Regions from separate parts of the Homo sapiens genome. Here all the other regions are linked to region 2. The links come from fine-mapping of genetic effects on gene expression. A gene starts in region 2. Each other region holds a variant in brackets. All regions are shown on one strand. Distances are from middle to middle.

Region 1 (8,177 bases), 150 kb after region 2:
GGTGACAAAGTGAGACTCTGTCTCAAAAACAAAACAAAACAAAAACAAACAAAACAAAAATCAGTGCCTGGCCTACAGTGAGTACCATCTAAATATTCACCATGATCATCACATCATTATTAAAGTCTCACAAACCTCCCCGGGAGGGAGGTTCAGTTGCTCCCGTTTTACAGATGAGGAACTTGAGGCACAGCTAGGCCACAAGTGGCAACATGGAGTTTGGACCCAGGTGTGCCTGACTCCAAAGATTTGGATGAAAAATCCTTGCTGTAAGTTTTTCATAGGAAAGGATGGAAAACTGCAAAATTCTCTCTTCCCACCAGTTCCTAACAGCACCACCAGCTTGAAAGCTGCTTGCTCATCCCTGGGGATGGCAACATACAAGAAACCCTTTGTCCTTCAAAGCAAGGACTTTTTCAACCCCAGTTCCTGTGGCCTAGTGAGCTCTTGCCCAGTGGCTGGGCTACAGCCAGGGAGGCAGGAACATCAACACAGCCGATGGCCCGGGGAAGGAGAGAAACTACAGGGAGTCACACTGGGGCCAAATGCCACATGACTCCCTTTCTTTCTACCAAACTGCTGAAGGATATGGCTTTAAGCACTAAACTCATGTCTTTCCAAATGGTGTCACAAGGAGGGAAGGCTCTCCAGATAAAATCAAATGCGAGGAGCCATATCCCCTAGGCCCTTGAACCAACGCTGCATCTTTATTTATAAGGAATACCAGGTTACCTTCTGCTCGTCGGGGACAAAGACCTTCTTGGCCTTTTTGATCATAGGCTGGGGCTTCAGGTCCTCCTCAGCAAACTTGTGCTTCCGAGGGTTGAAGAGCTCCCCGCCTGGCACACTGGAGAGCACCAGGTCGGCGGGGTCCGGATTGAAGTTCACATCCACTTCCACACAATTGGGGTCGATGGGACTGGGAGTCTCCCTCTCCTTCTCCAGGGAAGATTCTAAAAGACACAGAGACAGGTGGTCCCGAAGCAGCCCACTGGACAGAGAAGACCCACGCCACACACCCAGACACCTGGTTGAACCTCAAGGCTGCATAAGCCACTGCCGCCTGGGGAGAAGAAAACCCCAACAGTACCAGCCCCTAAGCCAGACTGGCACACGGTTCAATTCCACAACACAAACATTCAAAGAATTCTTTCCTTCAGGAACAGAATGCTCAAAAGGAAACAGAAGCCCTAGAAAAAGACAGGGTTTTCCAATTGTTTCCACCCCCTCCAGAAATGTTAAGCAAAACATTAATTTTTTTTTTTTTTTTTTTTTGAGATGGGAGTCTTGCTCTGTCGCCCAGGCTGGAGTGCAGTGGCGCAATCTCGGCTCATTGCAAGCTCCGCCTCCCGGGTTCATGCCACTCTCCTGCCTCAGCCTCCTGAGTAGCTGGGACTACAGGCGCCTGCCACCGCAGGTGCCCGCCACCAAGCCTGGCTAATTTTTTTGTATTTTTAGTAGAGATGAGGTTTTACTGTGTTAGCCAGGATGGTCTTGATCTCCTGACCTTGTGATCCGCCTGCCTTGGCCTCCCAAAGTGCTGGGATTACAGGCATGAGCCACTGCGCCCAGCCTAAAACATTAAATTTTTATATTCCCTTAACTTCCTGTGATTTCAAGATCTCCAGTAATGAGAAACAGCTGTGTCTCTCCAGGCAGACACAGACTGAAGAATGGAAATGGGTTCCAATTTTTTTTTTTTTTTTTTGAGACAGGGTCTTGCTCTGTCACCTAGGCTGGAGTATAGTGGTATGATCATGGCTCACTGCACCCTCGACCTTCTGGGCTGGAGTGATCCTCTTGCCTCAGCCTCCTGAGTAGCTGGGACCGCGGATGCACACCAACACGCCTGGCTAATTTTTTTTTATTTTTTAGAGACAGGGTTTCATTATGTTGCCAGGGCTGGTCTCAAACTCCTAGGCTCAAGTGATCTTCCTGCTTCAGCCTCTGAAAGTGCTGGGATTACAGGTGTGAGCCACTGCACCTGGCCAGGCTCCACTTTTCTTTTTCTTTTGAGACTGAGTCTTGCTCTGTCACTCAGGGTAGAGTGCACTGGTGCAATCTTGGCTCACTGCAGCCTCCACTTCCCGGGTTCAACCGATTCCCGACTCAGCCTCCCGAGTAGTGGAGACAACAGGCATAAGCCACCACGCCTGGCTAGTTTTTGTATTTTTAGTAGAGACAGGGTTTCACCATGTTGGCCAGGCTGGTCTTGAACTGCTGAGCTCAAGTGATCCACCCGCCTCGGCCTCCCAAAATGCTGGGATTACAGGTGTGAGCCACCACGTCCAGCCCGGGTTCCACTTTTGAGTCCCTGAGACATGTCTGTTACTGTGCCATCTAGTCACTTAGTCTTTTTTTTTTTTTTTTTTTTTTTTGAAGAGTCTCACTCTGTTTCCCAGGGTGGAGTGTAGTGGCGTGATCTCAGCTCACTGCAACCTTGACCTCCTGGGTTCAAGCTATTCTCCTGCCTCAGCCTCCCAAGTAGCTGGGACTACTGGCGCCCACTACCATGCTCGGCTAATTTTTGTATTTTTAGTAGAGACGGGGTTTCACTATGTTGGCCAGGATGGTCTCAATCTCCTGACTTGGTGATCCACCTGCCTCGGCCTCCCAAAGTGCTGGGATTACAGGTGTGAGCCACTGCGCCCGGCCCCATTTAGTCTTATGACAACTAGTTTACAGATGAAGAAACTAACGCTCAGAGAAATAAAATGGTTTTCCCAGAGTCACACAGATGATAAGCAATTGAACTAAAATTTGAAACTTAGTCTGGCTGGCTGATTCCTTGTTCTTCCCTGCCCCACCTGGCTGCCATTTAATAGTGGACACCGATTGGGTTAAAACCACCTCTAGAATTCTAAGGTTGTGTGTTATTAGAGATAAGAGTTATATTAAGAAAAACTATACCTTTGGCCAGCTCATTCAATGCTACTGATAGGAGTATACAAAATAATTATTCAGTCAACAGATACTTATTGAATACCTGTTATATGCCAGGTTCTGTCCTGGCAAAGACAAAACAGTTAACAAACAGCTAAAAATCCCTGCCTGCATGAAATGTTATTCTAGTGGGGAAAGCTGCATTACACAAGATAAATACAAACGATATATAAAAATGTCAGATGGGCCAGGCGTGGTGGTGCACACCTGTAATCTCAGCACTCTGGGAGGCCGAGGCGTGTGGATCACGAGGTCAAGAGATCGAGACCATCCTGGCCAACATGGTGAAACCCCGTCTCTACTAAAAATACGAAAATTAGCTGGGCGTGATGGCATGCGCCTGTAGTCCCAGCTACTCAGGAGACTGAGGCAGGAGAATTGCTTAAACCCAGTAGGCAGAGATTGCAGTGAGCCAAGATGGTGCCACTGCACTCCAGCCTGGCGACAGAGTGAGACTCCCTCTCAAAAAAAAAAAAAAAAGTCAGATGCCGGCCTGGTGTGGTGGCTCATGCCTGTAATCCCGGCACTTTGAGAGGCTGAGGTGGGTGGATCACCTGAGGTCAGGAGTTCGAGACCAGCCTGACCAATACGATGAAACCCCGTCTCTACTAAAAATACAAAAAGTAGCCGGCCGTGCCTGTTATCCCAGCTACTCAGGGGGCTGAGGCAGGAGACTCGCTTGAACCCGGGAGGCAGAGGTCGCAGCGAGCTGAGATCACACCACTGCACTCCAGCCTGGGTGACAGAATAAGACTGTCTTAAAAAAAAAAAAAAGAAAAGAAGATCCTGCAATGCATAGGTCAGTCACGCCTCCAACCCCAACAAAAAATCATCTGGTCTAAATGTCAATGGTGCTGCTGATTCTGACTTTTATCCTGAGATAGAACACCTGGAGGGCTCTGGGCAGAGGTGTGGCATGATCAGACTTAGGCTTTAATTGGATTATGCACATAAATTCATTGTATCCTATTAGACAGGGGTTAATTACAGAGACATCTGAGTGTCAGAGGAGTGAATGACCAGGGACCCACATGGTAACTGTAGGCAGTTTCGGGCATGCCAAACCTAGTACCTGCAAGACAAGCAGCTCAGGTACCTACCACATGAGAATGTTGTTCAAAGTGACGCCATGCCTGGGTGCCCTTCAGCAACAACCAAGTGGCAAGATGTGGTTAAGTTTCAGGGACAGGATAAGAGAAAGCCGCAGGAAACAAAAGGGGAAAATTTGCAAAGAGGCCTGGGGACAAGATTTTGAGGAATTCTCATTTCCCCATGGATACCTCTATGAACAAATTCTAGAAAATGACAATGAGGGCTGAGCGCAGTGGCTCA[CG/G]CCTGTAATCCCAGCACTTTCCGAGGCAGGTGGATCACCTGAGGTGAGGAGTTCAAGACCAGCCTGGCCAACACGGTGAAACCCTGTCTCTACTGAAAATACAAAAATTAGCCAGGTGTGGTGGTGGGCGCCTGTATTCCCAGCTACTCAGGAGGCTGAGGCAGGAGAACTTGAACCTGCGAGGCGGAGGTTGCGGGAGCCGAGATCGCACCACTGCACTCCAGTCTGGGTGACAGAGTGAGACTCCATCTCAAAAAAAAAAAAAAAAAAAAAAAAAGATGACAATGAGACCTTAAAATGACTTTGCTGGAAGAAGAGGGAAAGGGAATAGATCTGTTGGTAACTTGCCTGAAATATAATTCTCTCATAGGTCCACCATTACAAAAGATGTCAAAATCAAAGGCTGACAATGGAACTCCAATGCCCTGCTGGTGTGAGTACAAATGGATATAACAACTTTGTACGCTATTTGGCAGGGTCTACACAAACTGAACATATGCATGTCCAATGACCTAGCCATTCTCTTCCTAAGCAAATGCCCAAAAGAAACGCATATATATATTTACCAAAAAACATGTAGATGGGCCAGGCACAGTGGCTCACACTTGTAATCCCAGAACTTTGGAAGGTGAGGCAGGTGGATCACCTGAGGTCAGGAGTTTGAGACCAACCTGGCCAACATGGCAAAACCCCATCTCTACAAAAATAAGCCAGGAGTGGTGGCGCACACCTGTAATACCAGCTACCTGGGAGGCTGAGGCAGGAGAATCGCTTAAACCCAGGAGGCGGAGGTTGCAGTGAGCTGAGACCCCGCCACTGCACTCCAGCCTGGGCGACAAAAGCAAGACTCCGTCTCAAAAAAAAAAAAAGACATGCACATGAATGTTCATGGCAGCATTATTCATAACCAAAATCAGAATGTCCTTCAACGGTTAAATGGATAAGCTGTGGTACGTTAGTACAATTGACTACTATTCAGCAATGAAACTTAACAAAGCGGCTGGGTGTAGTGGCTCATGCCTGTAATTTCAACCAACACTTCGGGAGGCCCAGGTGGGAGGACTGTTTGAGGCCATGAATTTGAAACCAGCCAGGGCAACACAGTGATACCCTGACTCTACAGAAAAAAAAAAAAAACTTTTATTTATTTATTTTGAGATGGAGTCTTGCTCTGTCACCAGGCTGGAGTGCAGTGGCGCCATCTCGGCTCACTGCAACCTCCGCCTCCCGGGTTCAAGCGATTTTCCTGCCTCAGCCTCCAAGTAGCTGGGATTACAGACACGCACCACCATGCCCAGCTAATTTTTGTATTTTTAGTAGAGTCGAGGTTTCACCATGTTGGCCAGGATGGTCTCGATCTTTTTTTTTCTTTGAGATGGAGTCTTGCTCTGTCGCCCAGGCTGGAGTGCAGTGGTGCAATCTCGGTTCACTGCAAGCTCTGCCTCCTGGGTTCACGCCATTCTCCTGCCTCAGCCTCCCGAGTAGTTGGCACTATAGGCACCCGCCACCACACCCGGCTAATTTTTTGTACTTTTTAGTAGAGATGGGGTTTCACCGTGTTAACCAGGATGGTCTCAATCTCCTGACCTCGTGATCCACCCACCTCGGCCTCCCAAAGTGCTGGGATTACAGACGTGAGCCACTGCGCCCGGCCTGTAAAATACCATTTATGAGACAACTTTGGAAATCTGAATGTTGATGGATTTATTGTCAACTTTAGATGTAAAACTAGTATTTTCGTTATGTTTTTTTTAAAAGAACCCTTATATTTTAGATACATATTGAAATACTTATAATTTGATTGAAAATAACTGCTTCTGAGTTGAGAATTGTTGAAGCTGGGTGACGGTTACATAGAGGTTCATTATAGTCGTCTCTTACTTTTGTATTTTGTTTGAAAAAATTTCCACAATAAAAAGAAAAAAAAATAGAGTATGAGAACTTATTGGGTGTGGATTCCTGGGGTGACATACCGACTGGCAGGAGCTATCAGCCTGTATGCCTCAGAGACTGCAGAAAGCTTTGCAGAACCCCTGCAACAGGAGCCATGTCTCCTTTGGTAGGTTCGTGTCCAAGGAGCATGAAAACAAACCCCCAGAGATAAAATGTAAAAGGAGGAGGAATAAGGACAGACTCTGAAGATGATGTTTGTCCTGGCCAGGTGGTGGGAATGCTTTCTTTTTTTTTTTTTTTTGAGATGGCGTCTCACTCTGTTGCCCAGGCTAGTAGGTAATGGAGGTAGCACTTGAATAGTGCTTATGCCCTGGCACAAAGAAAGCATTCCCCACTTTGGGAGGCCAACGTAGGTCGATCACCTGAGGTCAGGAGTTCAAGACCAGCCTGACAAATATGGCAAAACCCCATCTCTACTAAAAATAAAAATCGCTTCAATCCGGGAGATGGAGGTTGCAGTGAGCCAAGACCAGCCTGACAAATATGGCAAAACCCCGTCTCTACTAAAAATACAAAAATTAAGGCTGTGCGTGGTAGCTTACGCCTGTAATCCCAGCACTTTGGGAGGCTGAGGCGGGCAGATCACCAGAGGTTAGGAGTTCGAGACCAGCCTGGCCAACATGATGAAACTCTGTCTCTACTAAAAAATAAAAAAATTAGCCAGGCGTGGTGGCTGGTGCCTGTAATCCCAGCTACTCAGGAGGCTGAGGCAGAGAATTGATTGAACCCAGGAGGTGGAGGTGGCAGTGAGCCGAGATTGCTCCACTGCACTCCAGCCTGGGCAACAGAGCGAGACTCCTTCTCAAAAAAAAAAAAAAAAAAAAAAAAAAAAAAAAGAGCAGCATTGAGGAAATGCAGAATGGGATTTCTATCCTGTAATGCCGTGGCCTGGAAGGTCCTGTCCTGACTGTTTGCAGCACAGCAACCAACAGAAGGGTTCCAACTGCCAGTGACATGACCACTATTTTTATCTCCAGCCTCGGGGAACTGTGTGGAAGGGTGGGGAGTGAAGAGTTTCTCCACACTGCAGCCCCACCAGGACCTCCCCTCAGAGAAGGGACTCACTGGGTACATGGACACAAGCAGCCCTCAGTGGGAAATGGACTTCCCTGGATGGGACAGGTGGCCCTCCTCGATGGCCTTTCACCAACCTGTGCTGGACACGGTTTCAGAGGGCTGAAAGATGGCAGTGGAGGAGGATGGTGGGGATGCTGTGGAAGAGCTGGCAGACTCCTTCCCTTCTAGCTCTGCTACAGGCAGCAGCAGGTTGTGGGCCAGGTGGGTGGGGCTGGCGGGGATGCCATTCTCCAGCAGGAACTCATCCAGGTCCATGTACTCCAGGTGGAAAGATTCGCCATCATATGGGATGGTCTTGTCCCAGATGGGTGGCATGAGGGAGGCTGAGACAGCCATGGTGCTGGCGGCTGCGGCCTCGTCCTCCTCCAGCTTTTCCTTCCCCTTTTCCTTATCTGCAGAAACAAAATCTGCGATGAAATACCACACAGGAGAGTAACTCAATCCCAGGAAGTGGGCAGTGAGCCTCACAGGCCTGGCCCATCTTTCTCAGAGCCCCGATTCCAACCCATGCATTTCAAGAACCTACTCTATTCTCCAGTTCGAATCTCGCACTTGAACCAGGCCGGCTGTTTTCCTTTAGACACGGCATCCCATCCTCATCCATGCCTGGCCTTCCCAGAAGGCTTACCACATACTCTGAGACCTTAAGCGGTCATAGGGTTAATTCATTATTTAATTTTATTTTAGTTTTTATTATTTTGAGACAGTATTTTGCTCGTCGCCCAGGCTGGAGTGCAGTGACCCAATTTCGGCTCGCTGCAACCTCCACCTCCTGGGTTCAAGCGATTCTTGTGCCTCAGACTCCCGAGTAGCTGGGATTACAGGTACGCACCACCATGCCCAGCTATTTTTTGTATTTTTAGTAGAGATG
Region 2 (8,177 bases):
TATTTCAGAGACAGAGTCTTGCTCTGTCACCCAGGCTGGAGGGCAGTGGCATGATCAAAGCTCACTGAAGCCTCAAATTCCTGGGCTCAAGCAATCCTCCCAACTAAGCCTCCCAAGTAGCTAGGACTACAGGCAAGTGCCATCACACCCAGCTAATTATTTTATTTTTTTAGTAGAGACAGTATCTCACTTTGTTACCCAGGCTGGTCTCAAACTGACCTTAAGCAATCCTCCTGCCTCGGCCTCCCAAAATGTTGGGATTATAGGCATGAGCCACTGTGCCTGGCTCCAAATACTTTTAATTACCTGAGAGTACAAACTCGCTCTTTCTCTCAGTGCCCACCCTGCTGCCCCCCAACTCCAGCACCAAGTGCTCTGAGTTGAAGCTCGGTTTGAGGCCCAGTTTTTCTTCTGCATTGCATCTCCAACAACTGTACACAACAGTATGTTGAATGAATGCACGAATGAATGAGAACAGCATCACATGTGGGTTCTGTTTTGGGCTGTTCTCACGTTGCTATAAAGAAATACCTGGGCCTGGCGTGGTGGCTCACGCCTGTAATCCCAGCACTTTGGGAGGCCGAGGCAGGCAGATCACCTGAGGTCATGAGTTTGAGACAAGCCTGGTCAACATGGTGAAACCCCGTGTCTACTAAAACTACAAAAATTAGCCAGTCGTGGTGGCATGTGCCTATACTCTCAGCCACTCAGGAGGCTGAGGCAGGAGAATCGCTTGAACTCAGGAGGCGGAGGTTGCGGTGAGCTGAGATGGCACCTCTGCACTCCAACCTGGGTGACACGCACAAAAAAAAAAAGAAAGAAAAAAGAAATACCTGGCTGGTAGTGGTGGCTCATGCCTGTAATCCCAGCACTTTGGGAGGCCGAAGCTGAGGATCACTTGAGGTCAAGAGTTTCAGACCAGCCTGGCCAACATGGCAAAACCTTGTCTCTACTGAAAGTACCAAAATTATCCAGGTGTGGTGGTGCACGCCTGTAATCCCAGCTAGTCTGGAGGCTGAGGCAGAAGAATCGCTTGAAATGGGGAGGTGGAGGTTGCAGTGAGCCCTGATAGCGCCACTGCACTCCAGCCTGGGCAACAGAGCTGGTTAATTTATAAAGAAAATAGGCTGGCTGGGCACGGTGGCTCACGCCTGTAATCCCAGCACTTTGGGAGCCCAAGGCGGGTGGATCATGAGGTGAGGAGATCGAGGCCATCCTGACTAACACGGTGAAACCTCATCTCTACTAAAAATACAAAAAACTAGCTGGGCGTGGTAGCGGGTGCCTGTAGTCCTAGCTACTTGGGAGGCTGAGGCAGGAGAATGGCATGAACCCGGGAGGTGGAGCTTGCAGTGAGCCGAGATCATGCCACTGCACTCCAGCCTGGGCGACAGAGCAAGAATCCGTCTCAAAAAAAAAAAAATAGGTTTAGTTGGCTCATGGTTCCACAGGCTTTACAGCAAGCATGGTACTGGCATAGGCTCAGCTTCCAGGGATGCCTCGGGAAGCTTCCCATGATATCGGAAATCAAAGGAGGAGCAGGCACATCACATGGGGAAAAGAGGAGCAAGAGAGAGAGTGGGAGGAGGGAGGTGCTACACACTTTTTTTTTCAAGATGGAGTTTTGCTCTTGTTGCCGAAGCTGGAGTACAATAGCGCGATCTCTGCTCACCAGAACCGCCACCTCCTGGGTTCAAGCGATTCTTCTGCCTCAGCCTTCCTGAGTAGCTGGGATTACAGGCATGCGCCACCACGCCCGGCTAATTTTGTATTTAGTAGAGACGGGGTTTCTCCATGTTGGTCAGGCTGGTCTTGAACTCCTGACCTCAGGTGATCCGCCCACCTTGGCCTCCCAAAGTGCTGGGATTACAGGCATGAGCCACACGCCTGGCCACCACACACTTTTTTTTTTTGAGACGGAGTCTCACTTTGTCGCCAGGCTGGAGTGCAGTGGTGTGATCTCAGCTCACTGCAACCTCTGCCTCCCGGGTTCAAGTGATTCTTCTGCCTCAGCCTCCCAAGTAGCTGGGACCACAGGCGCGTGCCACCACGCCCGGCTACTTTTTTTTTTTTTTTTTTTTTTTTGTATTTTTAGTAGAGACAGAGTTTCACCGTGTTAGCCAGGATAGTCTCAATCTCCTGACCTTGTGATCCACCCACCTCGGCCTCCCAAAGTGATGGGATTACAGGTGTGAACCACCACGCCTGGCCCCGCCACATACTTTTAAATGACCAGATATTGGCTAGTCACGGTGGCTCATGCCTGTAATCTCAGCACTTTGAGAGGCCAAGATGGGGGGGATCACCTGAGGTCAGGAGTTCGAAACCAGCCTGGCCAACATGGTGAAATCTTATCTAAAAATACAAAAGTTAGCTAAGTGTGGTGGTGGGCACCTGTAATTCCAGCTATTTGGGAAGCTGAGGCAGGAGAATCGCTTGAACCCAGGAGGTGGAGGTTGCATTGAGCTGAGATCATGCCACTGCACTCCAGTCTGGGCGACAGAGCAAGATTCCGTCTCAAAAGAAAAAAAAAAGAAAAGGCCTGAACCGAAGCAATAGCAGTGGGAGTGGAATGAAGAGGAAACATTTGAGAGGAAGAATTAATGGTAATCCCTAAACACCTTTACTCAATGCTTCCTAGGAATGTGTTAGGGGATTGTGGGAATAAAGAGCTGAAGTAGCATTTGCTGCTGTCCTCAAGTACCTCAAATCCTATAGAAGCACACCTAAAAATAAAATCATAGATGCAGGGAAGGCCACATTTAGCATCACTGCAGCCAGTGTCACTGAGAGATCACTATGCTTGTGAAATCAGCAAATTAAGGCACCATACATTTCCAAGTGCCTCTGTCATTTACCCCAAGTATCTTTTGTAAGTACCTAAATTGTTATTTTGGTTAAAACACACTACAAGCCCGGGCGCGGTGGCTCACACCTGTAATCCCAGCACTTTGGAAGGCTGAGGTGGGCAGATCATGAGGTCAGGAGATCGAGACCATCCTGGCTAACACGGTGAAACCTCGTCTCTACTAAAAAAAAATACGAAAAATTAGCCAGGCGTGATGGTGGGCGCCTGTAGTCTCAGCTACTCGGGAGGCTAAGGCAGGAGAATGGCGTGAACCCGAGAGGCGGAGCTTGCAGTGAGCCAAGATCGCGCCACTGCACTCCAGCCTGGGCGACAGAGCGATCCTCCGTCTCAAACAAACAAACAAACAAAAAAACCCACTACAGTATACATCTACACCCCACCAATTTTTAGAGGCAGGGTAGTGAGGTTCAGACTGGGCCCACCTCTACCACTTGTCAACACGTGATCTTGGGTAAGCTACCAAATTCTCTTAGCCCATGCTATCACGTGAAGATGAATGAGACTGGAATGTCAGCGAGACAGAGCATGATGGGGCTATAGGAGGGGGGTATGGTCAGATCTTGCAGGGCCGTGTGAACTACCATAAAGGTTTTGGACTTTTCTTCTTTCTTTCTTCTTTTCTTTCTTCTTTCCCTTTTCTTTCTTCTTTCTTCTTCTTCTTCTCCTTCTTCTTTCTTCTTCTTCCGCCTCTCCTTCTTCTTCTTTTTCGTTTAGACATGAGGTGTCACTGTCACCCATGCTAGAGTGCAGCATGCAACCTCAAACTGCAACCTCAAACTCCTGGACTCAAGCGATGCTGCTGTCTCAGGCTTCTGAGTAGGTGGGACTACGGGTGTACACCACCACGCCCGGCTTGGATCTAGTATTCTAAGTTCAATGGGTTGTGTTTTTTGTTCCAATTTATTATAACTTTTCAATTGGAACATAATGTCTACAAATAAATGCAAAAATCTTGCCGAGTTCAATTAGTTTGGACAATTATATACGTCAATGTTATACCACCGAAAACAAAATACAGAACATTTCCATCATCTCAGAACAGTCCCAAGTGCCCCTTTCCTGCTAATTCTCCTTGTCTCCGGAACACTTAAGGGTGCTAAGCATGTTATGTTTGCGGTGGGTTTTTTTTTTAACTTAGATGTGGTAATATATGTTTGCGTTTCCAAAGGATCACTCTGGCTGCCGAGCAGAGGACAGCAATGCGGGTAAAGCACAGGCCAGGCGAGGGATAATCAGGCGGGATTGCACGGAGGTCGCCTAGCAACAGAAAGCGCTGTCGGGGGCGGGGGAACCGCTCTGCTCCTGTGAAAGGAGGAGGCCCCGCCCTCTCCTCGCCCTCTCTCTGCCCCACGCTGTGCGCGAGCACACAGGCAGCCCCGCCCCGCCTCGGCGGGGTGGGGGTGGACAGAGGTTTCTTATTGGTGAGTTTTCCGGAAGCGATGGATTCGGAATCTCGCCCGCAGTCGCGCAAGCGCGAGCGGCTGTGCGCGGTGCGTGGTGCGTGGTGCGTGATACGAGCGGCGGCACGTGGCGCGGGTGCGGGGCGTGGAGTGGCGTGGCGTGGAGTGGCGTGGCGTGGCGGGGTCTCGCGGCGCGGGCGCGCACCCGGAGCTGTGGACGGAGAGTGCCTCCCTCTGGCCTCAGTTTCCTCATGTTGTAGTAGCGGAGCATGGCCCGGACCGGGCCCCCGAGACCGCCCCGTGCAACCTCACCGCCAGCCTGGGGGCCTCAGCGACTGGGACGGGACCAAGGGGCTCGGGGATTCTCCCTGCCCCCGGCCCTGGTGCGTGACTGACCCTCCTGTTCCCAGAGCCCCCAGCGCAGGCCGGGATGTTCGTCCTGGTGGAAATGGTGGACACCGTCCGGATCCCCCCTTGGCAGTTTGAGAGGAAGCTCAACGACTCCATTGCCGAGGAGCTGAACAAGAAGTTGGCCAACAAGGTACTGGGCCCACGGCTCGCGGGCAGGCCTTGGCGTGGGAGAGCGAGCGCCGCCCACTGGCCGCAGGCCCGGCCTCGGTCATGCCAAGCCCTGGCCGTGGGCAAGCAGCTTAATGTCTCAGAACTTTTCTTCACCGTGAAAGGAGATATTGAAGGGGATCAAAAGAAAATGGGCTTGAAAAAGGGAGTTGTAACTGGAAGTGTTAGATTCCACAATTCTAAATTACTTTGCAATTGCAGGCAAGTTACTGACCCCTTCTGGGCCTCAGTTTCCATTTTTAAAATGGGGATAAAATATTGCTGTCCTTCCAGCCATGCATTGTTTTTGTTGTTGTTGTTGTTTGTTTTGTTTTGTTTTGTTTTTTGTTTTTGAGACGGAGTCTTGCTCTTTCGTCCAGGCTGGAGTGCAGTGGCGCGATCTCGGCTCACTGCAACCTCCGCCTCCCGGGTTCAAGCGATTCTCCTGCCCCAGCCTCCCGAGTAGCTGGGACAACTACAGGCGCGCGCCACCACCCCCAGCTAATTTTTGTATTTTTCGTAGAGACGGGGTTTCACCATTTTGGCCAGGATGGTCTCGATCTCTTGATCCCCCCGCCTCGGCCTCCCAAAGTGCTGGGATTACAGGTGTGCGCCATCGCCTCGGGTCAATGCATTGTTTTCGTGAAGATGGAGAGTTCTAGTAGTACAGAATTAACTGTCAGGAGGTTCATCCCTTCATTCCAGCAGCCAATATTTGTGCGCCTTCTCTGTGCTGTGCCTGTGTGCCTTAGTACCAGCTGAGAGGTCTTCCCACTGCCGTTTCTTTGACAGTCCTCCCTTTCCAGGTATTCTGTGTCACATCACTCTCTTTCCTTCTTAGACTTTTTCCTTTCCCTCTCCTTGAGAGCAGGGACCTTATCTGCCTTCTTCCCTGAAGTATCCCCTCATTTAGCCAAAGCCTGGCGGGAGTAGATGTCCCATAATTTTCTGTTTTGTGTTTGTGTGTGTGAGACAAGAGTGCCGCTCTTGTCGCCCAGGCTGGGGTGCAATGAAGCGATCTTGGCTCACTGCAACCTCCACCTCCCAGGTTCAAGCTATTCTTCTGCTTCAGCCTCCTGAGTAGCTGGGATTACAGGCACCTGCCACCACACCTGGCTAATTTTTGTACTTTTAGTAGAGACGGGGTTTCACCATGTTGGCCAGGCTGGTCTCAAACTTCTGACCTCAGGTGATCTGCCTGCCTCAGCCTCCCAAAGTGCTGGAATTACAGGTGTGAGCCACCGTGCCCGGCCATTTGTTGACTGAATGAATGAAACAGAGACAAGGCTCTGTGCTATAGTGTGGTGGGAAAGCAGATATGAATGAGAAGGGTCCACAGTTGAGTGTTTGGTGACAAATTGAGGTAAATGTTATGAGGGACAGGTGTTCACACACCTGTGGAACAAAGGAACGTCCCCTGGAATGAGGGGACCTGCAGCTTTGTTGAGGAGGTGGGGTTGAAGGTGAGATCTGATGGTGAAGTGGAGCCAACCAGAGGATTCCTTTCTAGGGTGGGAGGGGGCTGGGTGGAGAGAAGAGCCCTGAAGGCAGGAACTGGCATGTGCAAAGGCCCTGTGAAGAAGGAATACAGGCCGGGCGTGGGGGCTCACACCTGTAATCCCACCACTTTGGGAGGCTGAGGCGGGTGGATCACCCAAGGTCAGGAGTTTGAGACCAGCCTGTCCAACATGGTGAAGCCCCATGTCTACTAAAAATACAAAAAATAGCTGGGCATGGTGGCAGGCACCTGTAATCCCGGCTACTTGGGAGGCAGAGGGAGAAGAATCACTTGAACCCAGGAGGCAGAGGTTGCAGTGAGCTGAAATCGCACCACTGCCTTCCAGCCTGGGTGACAAGAGTGAAACTTCGCTTCAAAAAAAAAAGAAGAAGGGGTAAAATACCCACCATGGTGTGGAAGAGGCTGGTGTGGCTTGGGCAGAGGGGAGGGTGGGCTGGACAGGTGGGTGGGGGCCAGGCCACACAGCCCTGTAGGATGTCGGAGTTGAGGTATTGGTCTTTATCCGTGGAGCATCAGAAGGTGATGGGCTGAGAAGGAGCCAGAAAGAGGATGCTTAGCTGGCTTTACGCATGAGACAGGTCCCTTCAGAAGAGGTGAGGTTGATTTGGGGGTTGCTAGATAGTGAAGGGAACTCATGGAGTCTTTAAGTGGATGGCTTCTGGTTACTTTGTGAGGTTGAAGATGAGGGTCTGTTGGGGGATGGAGGTGTGGACCTTGAGAGAGAAGGTGTGGAAAGTCCAAGAAGGGAATATAGTCCCTTTGGGGTAGAGGTCCTGTTGGGACAAGTCTTCTAGTATTTGATTAGATGAATCGTTTGAGAGGGGGCCCACACAGAAATCCATGGTCTGACAAAGGGCACAGATCTTGTGGCATTATCTTGGTGAGGTCTGGCCACGACTCTGAGTTCTCTGAGCTTCTTGCTAATTCTTGGACAGTTCTTGCAAGGGTTCTAAGTGGGGGTGATGACACGGTGGCAGATAAGGAGACACTGAGTAGCCAGTCGTTTGAACCACAGTGGTGTGGGGTGAGGGCATGGGATTTCTGCACATTCTTGGGGCCTAGGTCTTGTGTCCCTCTGCCAGCTGCAGTCCCTGTGGCTGCGTCTGTGTGTCTGAGATGTTGTGAGCACAGTGGGGTTTAGCTGTGGCTGTGACGCTCACTAAACTGTGAGCTCTGGCATTGGCTTTGGGATGTCGGAGAGTGCACGTTTAGGCAGCATTCCTGTCACTGGTCCTCACTAGTAATAACAAAGATCCTTGATGATGATGGTTTCCAATACACGAGCCAGGTACAAGGCTAGGGGCTTCACATCTGTTATCTCTCTTTATTTTATAACTCTGCAGCCTGGTATTTCACATTTGCAGATGGGGAGACCGAGGCTCAGAGAGGTGAAGTGACCCTCTTGGCAGTCACACAGTGGGTGGTGGAGCTGGCCTTGGAACCTGGACCTGTTTTGTCACCCGAGGCCCTGCTCCTTCCAGAGCTCTGCATCCTTCTGAGGTTCCTTACCCTGGTCCCCTCCACAAACTCATTTTCACCTAAAAAAGGAGATAATCATGGCTTGCTTGTGGTTGTGAGGGGCTCAGATTGCCTGGGAGCTGGGCCTGTGGTCACTCTGTATCCATGTGTACTTGTGTGTCTGTGTTTGTATGCATGCAGGTCGTGTACAACGTGGGACTCTGCATTTGTCTGTTTGATATCACCAAACTGGAGGATGCCTATGTATTCCCTGGGGATGGCGCATCACACACCAAAGGTGGGTATCTTCTGTCCCTGGGGCATTGGGCTTCTTGGGGCTCAGTTTTCTGTAGCCAAAGGTCAAGCCAAATCC
Region 3 (8,177 bases), 180 kb after region 2:
CCTCCTTTCCTGGCTTAGCCCAAGCAAACCCACACCCAGTTCCAGAGGGGTGAAGGGAGGCCGGGGGCTGTGGGATCTGTCTCCTGGCTCTGGTTTGGGAGTGGGCTGAGAGCGTCCTGTGGAAGGAAGGAGTCCTGCGGGGACAACCAGGGCCACCTGGTGATGCTAGGTAGCAGGTGCTGGCACAGCAGGATGAGAGGGAGGCCTGAGAAAGGTCCCCTGAGAGGACACCCCAGGTGCTCAAGTCAGACTCAGGCAGCAAAAGCCAGCTGGGCCCCTCTAAAGGCAAGGAGGAGTTGGAGCCCTGGGGACCTGGGGGTGACCTCTGACTTCTGGGAACAGAAGAGATTTGGAGAGAGATTTATCAGTATTCTCCGCCAAACTAATCTGGCCATGGGGTTCCCAGGCAGGACTTGGGAGACACCTGGTGCTGGCCACCAGGTCTGCCCCTCAGTCCACGCCCTCCTCTCTCCTCCCTCGCGCGTTTTGCCTGTGGTATCCTAGGAACGCAGGGCTTCGAGCCTTGTGGTCCTGTTACATAACAGTTTCCATCCCATCCATGAGTTCAGCCCTCCGGCAAGCGGGAGCTGCAGCAGGCGCACCAAGGAAAGCCTCTGCTTCAGACCCAGGCTCCTGCTGCCCAAATCCACAGTCCCTGCCGCTCCTCTGCCACCCCCAGCGTACAGGGGGAGGGAGCTTCAAAAGCAGTCAGCATCCAGCCAGATTCTTTCAATAGGACCCCCTGTCCTGTCCTGGTCCCACATGAGCACAGCACCTGTCAGTGGCCACACACTGGCCATGGCTTCCCCAAATCCAGCAGGCCTAGGAGAGAGTCCCAGAGCCGGTGTGACACATGCCTCCTCGAACCCCTCTCCGCACTCTGCACCCTGAGACCAAGGGCGCACCACTGCTGAGACCCTCCCTGGCTTGGAGATGCCTGTCCTGCCACTGTGCCTGTGGCTGCCCCCTCGCCCCCTCGAGTACCTGGGCAGCCAATCAATGCAGGTCACCTGTGCTCCTACCTGTTCTCTTCTCTGGCCAAGGCAGAGAGTGCTCCAGCAGGGACTTGAGGACCTCAGGCATGTCCATGGCAGGGGCCACTGAGAACCAGTCGCAGCTCACACAGCCCAGCAGGAGGTGCTTGCTCCAGGGAGTTCAGAGGCAGCTGGAGAGGCAGGGGCCGCCAGCCGCAGGCTAGGGAGGCAGGCGGGGTGGGAGCCTTGAGGCAGCCAATGGCCAGCACCAGTCCCAGCCCGCCCGTCCACCCCCGGCTCGGCCACCTGCCAGCTCCGGCTGCAGCCAGGCCTTCCCTTCCCGCTGCTTGGCAGGGCGGGCCTGGCCCTGCGCCAGCTGCAGCACGTGGAGCTGTCGCGCCAATCCTCTGACAGAGAGCCCAGCCTGTTATCTAACTTTGGAAAGGGAAGTTCTCCCCCAGGCTGGGAGCCATAACTGGGGCTGCCAGGTGAGAATGGTAAGCTCCACGCCCACAGCAAGCACGCATCAGCATGGAGGTGCCCTGGAGGCCCAGGCACGCAGTGGAAACCATCCCGGGCTGGGACCTGAGGCTCCAAGAGAAAAGGAGGATGACAGGCAAGGACAGCACCTCAGGCAGCCGAGCACAAGACACCCTGTGTTGGCAGATGCAGGGATGCGGTCGGACATCATGCCTTCACCTGTGCGCTTCTGAGCCTCAAGGGCTTGTGGCATGTTTTGATGCTGTGTTTATGCCATGCACACGTACCCTACAAGGCACGCCAGTGTACATATGGCATGCATAATTGGAGCTTTATACCATCTGCACAGCCTGAAGCCTGTTCCCCAAAAGGAAGTGATAAAACCTACCGCCTCAGGTTCTTTGGTCTTCAGGGGAGAGGGGAAAAGGGGCAGGTGCCAGGAGACCAGGCACCACTGAAAGGGGGGCAGCTCTGCCAGCCTGCTTCAGGCTTGTCCTGGATGAGGAATCCCTGCTTCCCAGTCATTGTGGGGACTTAAAGTGCCAATTGGCTATTTGCTGTAGTTCCCTCTCATACCCTCCCACCAGGACGCTGGCCCCTGTGGTCCTTGGGTTACTTGAATGGGTGAAGCAAAGGTTCTGGATGTCAACCTCTACGTCAGACCAACATCACGTCAAAGCCAGACTTGCCGGGGGATGCCAGGTTCTCGATTCTGCCGTACATTGCTGTGGGATCTTGAGCAAGCGTGGCAGCAACTCTGGGTCTCAGTTCCCGAACCACCGAATGCAGTGACCTCTAAGGTGCCGTTCAGCTCTAGTTCTATGGCTCTGAAGCTCCAGATGGGCTGCAATAAACATTTGGTTTTCTGCGTGGTAGCTGATTTTTTTTTTTTTTTTTGAAACAGGGTCTTTGTTGCTCAGGCTGAAGTGCAGTGGTGGGATCACGGCTCACTGCCTCATCCTTACAAGTAGCTGGGACCATAGGTGCATGCCGCCACACTGGACTTTTTTTTTATAAAGACACTGTTGCCCAAGCTGGTCTCAAGTCCTGTGTTCAAGCCATCCCCCGGTCTTGGCCTCCCCAAAGTCTTGGGATTATGGGTGTGAACACTGCCCCTGGCCTGTAGCTGGTTTCTAAGCAGTGCTTTGTTGTTTTCCAAAATTCCATTTTGTACAGAATCAAAAATACTCCAAGAGCCCCTTCTGGCTTCTTCCTTTCCCAATGACCTCAGCTTATACTCTTAATTACCCTCCTTCCCTCCCTAATGACCCTCCCCAAATTATGCTCTTTCCCAAATTAATTAAAAATTAATTTTAACTTTTGAATACAAAAAACAATACGTGGCTCACAGCTCAAAACCTCCGATAAGGTTTGTTTATTTATTTGTTTATTTAGAGACATAGTTTCATTCTGTTGCCCGGGCTGCAGTACAGTAGCAGGATCTCAGCTCACTGCAACCTCTGCCTACCAGGCTCCTGCCTCAGCCTCCTAAGTAGCTGGAATTACAGGCACACACCATTACGCCCAGCTGATTTTTGTATTATTAGTAGAGGCAGGGTTTCGCATCATTGGCCAGGCTGGTCTCAAACTCCTGACCTCAGGTGATCCGCCCTCCTCACCCTCCCAAAGTGCTGGGATTACAGGTGTGAGGCACTGTGCCCAGCCTCAAGGAAGTATACTTTAGAAATGTCCTTTCTATCCCTGTCCCTCTTTCCCATTCCCCAATGTTTCTTTTTGCAAAAGTAAACATATATATGTATATATTTATGACACACACACACA[CACACAA/A]ACATTTAATTTTGCAGAGTTGTATGTTTTGACCAGCAGAGAGTGTTTTGTAACTACAAAGGAGAGACCCCCTTACTGCTGTTTCCAGCCAGAACCCTGGCCAGTGCCCTTTGCTCTGCAACCCCGGGGGTGAGGGTAAGGGTGAGAGTGAGCCTGGTGCGCAGGCCCCCAGCTGACCTGTGATTTGCAGTCAGGGGTGGACTCAGGCTGGGCTGCCGCATTCACCATTCCTCGGTCCAAGAATTCTCTTGAGTGCAAGACCGCTTATCACAAAGGTGGAGTGGGCAGGTGTCCATCGGTATGATCTCAAAAGGAACAGGAAGCACCCTGTGTTTCTCAAACATACCCACCTGCTGCAAGACGTTTTTCTCTTGGAAATTCATTCCGGTGAGCTCTCTGCAGGCTCCTTTTTTTTTTTTTTTTTTTTTTTTTTGAGGCGGAGTTTTGCTCTTGTTGCCCAGGCTAGAGCACAATGGCGTGATCTCGGTTCACCGCAACCTCTGCCTCCCAGGTTCAAGCAATTCTCCTGCCTCAGCCTCCCGAGTAGCTGGGATTACAGGCATGCACCACTGTGCCCAGCTAATTTTGTATTTTTAATAGGGACGGGGTTTCTCCGTGTTGGTCAGGCTGGTCTCAAACTCCTGACTTCAGGTGATCCACCTGCCTCAGCCTCCGAAAGTACTGGGATTACAGGTGTGAGCCACCGTGCCTGGCCTCTGCAGGTTCATTTTAATGTGCGAATGTCCTAAGCCTCTGAGACTATGAATGAGTGCTTATCACATACCTGGCACCAGCCTAAACCCTGTGAGGAATTCAAAGTTAACATACCCAGCCAGGCAACTCCCTATCCTTAGAGAACTTTCACACCACCAGGAGTCCATGTTGGCAGCCCCCAGTCGGCACTCAGTGTCCAGCTGGCAGCATCCCCTAGGTCAGACAGGGACCACACCAGTGGGTTGCTGGGCCAGGCAGCCAGGGAGGCCAGAGGTAGTGGGAAGGGAAGGCCGTATACATACCTAGAGACCTTCGGACGGGGGCCGTATGCTGGGAGTGCTGGAATTGTCTGCACTTCTTGGACTTCGTAGCTCAGGGATCTGATGTCCACTGCAGATGGTCTGAGGTCTGTTGGTGTCCTTATCAATGCCACTGAGCCCATTCCTATGCCCTGCGCTTGAGTTTTCATCAACTGTATTTACCCCCAGTTCACTAGGAACATGGTTTTTTTTTTTTTTTTTTTTTTTTTGAGATGGAGTCTCGCTTTGTCACCCAGGCTGGATGGAGTGCAGTGGCGTGATCTTGGCTCACTGCAAGCTCCGCCTCCCAGGTTCACGCCATTCTCCTGCCTCAGCCTCCCGAGTAGCTGGGACTACAGGTGCCCGCCACCAGGCCCGGCTAATTTTTTGTATTTTTAGTAGAGACGGGGTCTTCACTATGTTAACCAGGATGGTCTCAATCTCCTGACCTCATGATCCACCCGCCTCGGCCTCCCGGAGTGCTGGGATTACAGGCGTGAGCCACCGTGCCCAGCCGGAACATGGTGTTCTTTGTGCCTACAGCTATGTCTCCTTGCAGGGGAGCTGTAATCCCAGACAGAAGTCTGGAGTCAGAGTCACAGTGGCTCCCTAAGAACATCTAACGCCTTGTGCAGCTGAGAGGCCGGGCTGAGGGAGAACTTTATCAAGAATACGTTCTCAGCCAGGCACGGTGGCTCACTCCTGTAATCCCAGCACTTTGGGAGGCCAAGGTGGGTGGGTCACCTGAGGTCAGGAATTCTTGACCAGCCTGGCCAACATGGTGAAACCCTGTCTCTACCAAAAACACAAAAATTAGCTTAGTATGGTGGCATGCACCTGTAATCCCAGCTATTTGGGAGGCTGAGGCAGGAGAATGGCGTGAACCCGGGAGGCAGAGCTTGCAGCGAGCTGAGATCACGCCACTGCACTCTAGCCTGGGCACAAGAGCAAGACTCCGTCTCAAAAAAAAAAAAACAAAAAACAAAACAAAACAACAAAACACGTTCCCTGTGCCTCGTCCTCTCCTTGAGCAGCAGCGCATATATATTTACTTCTAGGCCCGAAACGAAGGTGCCAGAAGAGGCTGGCATAATCTTACTGATCATCAATTGAGCAGGTCCAGTGGCTCCAGCTGCGTTTTTCTGAGGACTGGGGGTTGTTTCCCAGGGAGGTTGCAAAGGGCTCCCAGGTGTGGGGATAGACGGATGCAATTATTTGCAGAACTGTCAAGGGCTTTCTCTAGAGGTGTAGAGCTGAGGCAGCTGGTGCGCTGTGTTGGTCGTGCTCACTGAGGCCCCTACTCACAGGGCTGAAGACCAGACACAGGGCTGCGTTCAGTAACTGGAAGCTGCTTAAGCGAGCTCTGACTCATCAATAGGATGAATATCAGCTACTGACCATAAATATCCAGGTGACACGGGTACATGGAACTGCACATGTGAAATAAAAATTAAGAGAGAAAGATGCAGAACAGTAAGTGACATGGATTACAATGATGAATCTTTTTGAAGCTTCAATTCCAGTTTCACCTCCTCCAGGAAGTCCTCCCTGGCTGCTGAGCCTGGATGAGGTACCTCCCCTGGTTCCCTGAGTGTCTCCCCCCGTCACCCCCATCACATCATTCTACAATCTTCTATTACGTCGGTCTCCTTTAGCACTGACTGAACTGAAGGGGAAGCAGTTTCTTAAGTAATCCTGTATCCCTGGATCTGGGATAGAGTGGGTGCTCAGTTGATGTTTACCAATCTGAGCCACGTGAGGACCAGAAGAGAATTTAAGGGAATTGATGAGAATGTACAAGTTTATTCCACTAGGTTGATTGAAGTCCTGCTTGTATTTTTTTTTTTTTTTTTGAGACAGAATCTCACTCTGTCACCCAGGCTGGAGTGCAATGGCATGGTCTCAGCTCACTGCAACCTCTGCCTCCCGGGTTCAAGTGGTTCTTGCACCTCAGCCTCCCAAGTAGCTGGGACTACAGGCGTGTGCCACCACACCCGGCTAATTTTTGTATTTTTAGTAGAGACGGGGGTTTCACTATGTTGGCCAAGCTGGTCTCGAACTCCTGACCTCGTGATCCACCCTCCTCTGCCTCCCAAAGTGCTGGGATTACAGGAGTGAGCCACTGAGCCCGGCCTCTGCTTGTCTTACTCTTTAATTGTTCCTTTATTATTTATTTTTATTTTTTTGAGACAGGATCTTGCTCTGTCTCCCAGGCTGGAGTGCGGTGGTGTGATCATGACTCACTGCAGCCTCAACCTCCTGGGCTCAAGCCAACCTTCCACCTCAGCCTCCCAAGTAGCTAGGACCACAGGTGTGGACCACCATACCCAGCTAATTTTACTTTTTTTTTTTTTTTTTGTAGAGATACGGCTTTACTGTTGCTCAGGCTAGTCTCAAGCTCCTGGCCTCAAGTGATCCTCCTGCCTTGATCTCCCAAGGCAGGATTACAGGAGTAATCCTGTAAGGTCTTGATGCAGGCACGCGATCTCTCCAGCCTAAGCATGAGTCTGTATTTTTCTTCCGGGAACTCTGCCTTGCCACGCCACTTCGGTTTTTCACAGTGCATCCAGAGGTGCTGTGAATTCCAGAATGTCAGGGCGGAAGGGACGTTTGCCGATACCCAGTTCCCAGTGGTTCTCGATCTTTTTTCTGCCTCCTTCCTGAGGGTCCTTGGAACCTTCACTGAAACTCTCTGGGCTATAAATGTGGACAGTGAACTTCCACGGTTGCTGTGAGGGACGGATGTACTAGCTGCACAGTACCTGCTGCAACCAAGATGCTCAATAAAGCTGGCTGCTTTTGTTCCTCGTGCCATCATTTATCAAGCATCTGAGCGTCTACTGCACACCTGGCCCAAATGACTCCGTCTTCAGGCAATTCTCTGGTCCTGAACCGCTGTCCTGGTCCACTCCACACTGCAGTTTAAAGCTGTCTGGGAAGCCGGGCATGGTGGTGGCTCATGCCTGTAATCCCAGCACTTTGGGAGGCCAAGGCGGCGGGTGGATCACTTGAGGTCAGGAGTTCGAGACCAGCCTGGCCAACATGGTGAAACCCTGGCTCTACCAAAAATACAAAAATTAGCCAGGCATGGTGGTGGGTGCCTGTAGTCCCAGCTACTGAAGAGGCTGACGCAGGAGAATCAGTTTAGCCTGGGAGGTGAAGGTTTCAGTGAACCGAGATCGTGCCACTGCACTCCAGCCTGGGTGACAGAGTGAGACTCTGTCTCAAAAAAAAAAAGGAGAAAAAGAAAAAAAAGCTGTCTGGTGAGAGCTTGCTCTTGGACATGAGCAGTCCCTCCCTATGGGACCCCCTCTATCACCTGCAGCCATGCACAATCCAAAAGATTTGACAAAGTACCTCCCACCCCAGCAGACTGAGTCCCTGAGAACTCCAGATCTAATATATCAGCTCCTTTTATTTATTTATTTTTGAGACAGAGTCTCGCTCTGTCACTCAGGCTGGAGTGCAGTGGACCGATCTCAGCTCACTGCAACCTCCGCCTCCCGAGTTCAAGCGATTCTCCTGCCTCAACCTCCCAAGTAGCTGGGATTACAGGCATGTGCCACCATGCCCAGTTAATTTTTGTATTTTTAGTAGAGACGGGTTTTCACCATGTTGGCCAGGCTGGTCTCAAACTCCTGACTTCAGCTGATCCGCCCACCTCGGCCTCCCAAAGTGCTGGGATTACAGGTGTGAGCCACTGTGCCCAGCCCCCCCGCCAGCTCCTTTTAAAGATGAGGAAACTGGACCCATGTGACTTCAGTCTCCCTTGGGTTCACAGAAGCCAGGGTTGCAGTCGGGATCACACTGGGCATCATAGGCGAGGCATGGTCCCTGCCTTCCTGCAAGAGCCACCTCCAGAAAGGGCAGAGGTGGGTCCTGGAACCCAGCTGGGCACACACTGCAGCGTAAATGTAGGGAA

What was found. PIP is the estimated chance that this variant, and not a neighbour inherited with it, causes the effect.
Region 1: its variant is fine-mapped to the expression of POLR3H in whole blood (TOPMed, PIP above 0.99).
Region 3: its variant is fine-mapped to the expression of POLR3H in whole blood (INTERVAL, PIP 0.92).

The regions. Positions count from the first base shown.
Region 1 is chr22:41,386,872-41,395,048 of GRCh38, reverse strand. It overlaps TEF (TEF transcription factor, PAR bZIP family member), which reads right to left. Exons shown (of 4, transcript NM_003216.4): 2 at 7,381-7,698; 3 at 733-953. Among named protein-coding and RNA genes, the nearest start is that of TEF, 9.0 kb to the right of the region's middle. The variant CG/G (reference allele first, on the strand shown) is at 4,276.
Region 2 is chr22:41,540,624-41,548,800 of GRCh38, reverse strand. It overlaps POLR3H (RNA polymerase III subunit H), which reads left to right and starts at 4,331. Exons shown (of 6, transcript NM_001018050.4): 1 at 4,331-4,810; 2 at 8,006-8,102. The coding sequence starts at 4,700. RefSeq lists silencers at 4,141-4,240, 4,431-4,560 and enhancers at 4,611-4,700, 4,711-4,810, 4,133-4,970.
Region 3 is chr22:41,360,445-41,368,621 of GRCh38, reverse strand. It overlaps a transcript of TEF not described here. Among named protein-coding and RNA genes, the nearest start is that of TEF, 17 kb to the left of the region's middle. RefSeq lists a silencer at 1,179-1,238 and enhancers at 4,057-4,617, 7,581-8,103, 8,104-8,177. The variant CACACAA/A (reference allele first, on the strand shown) is at 3,237.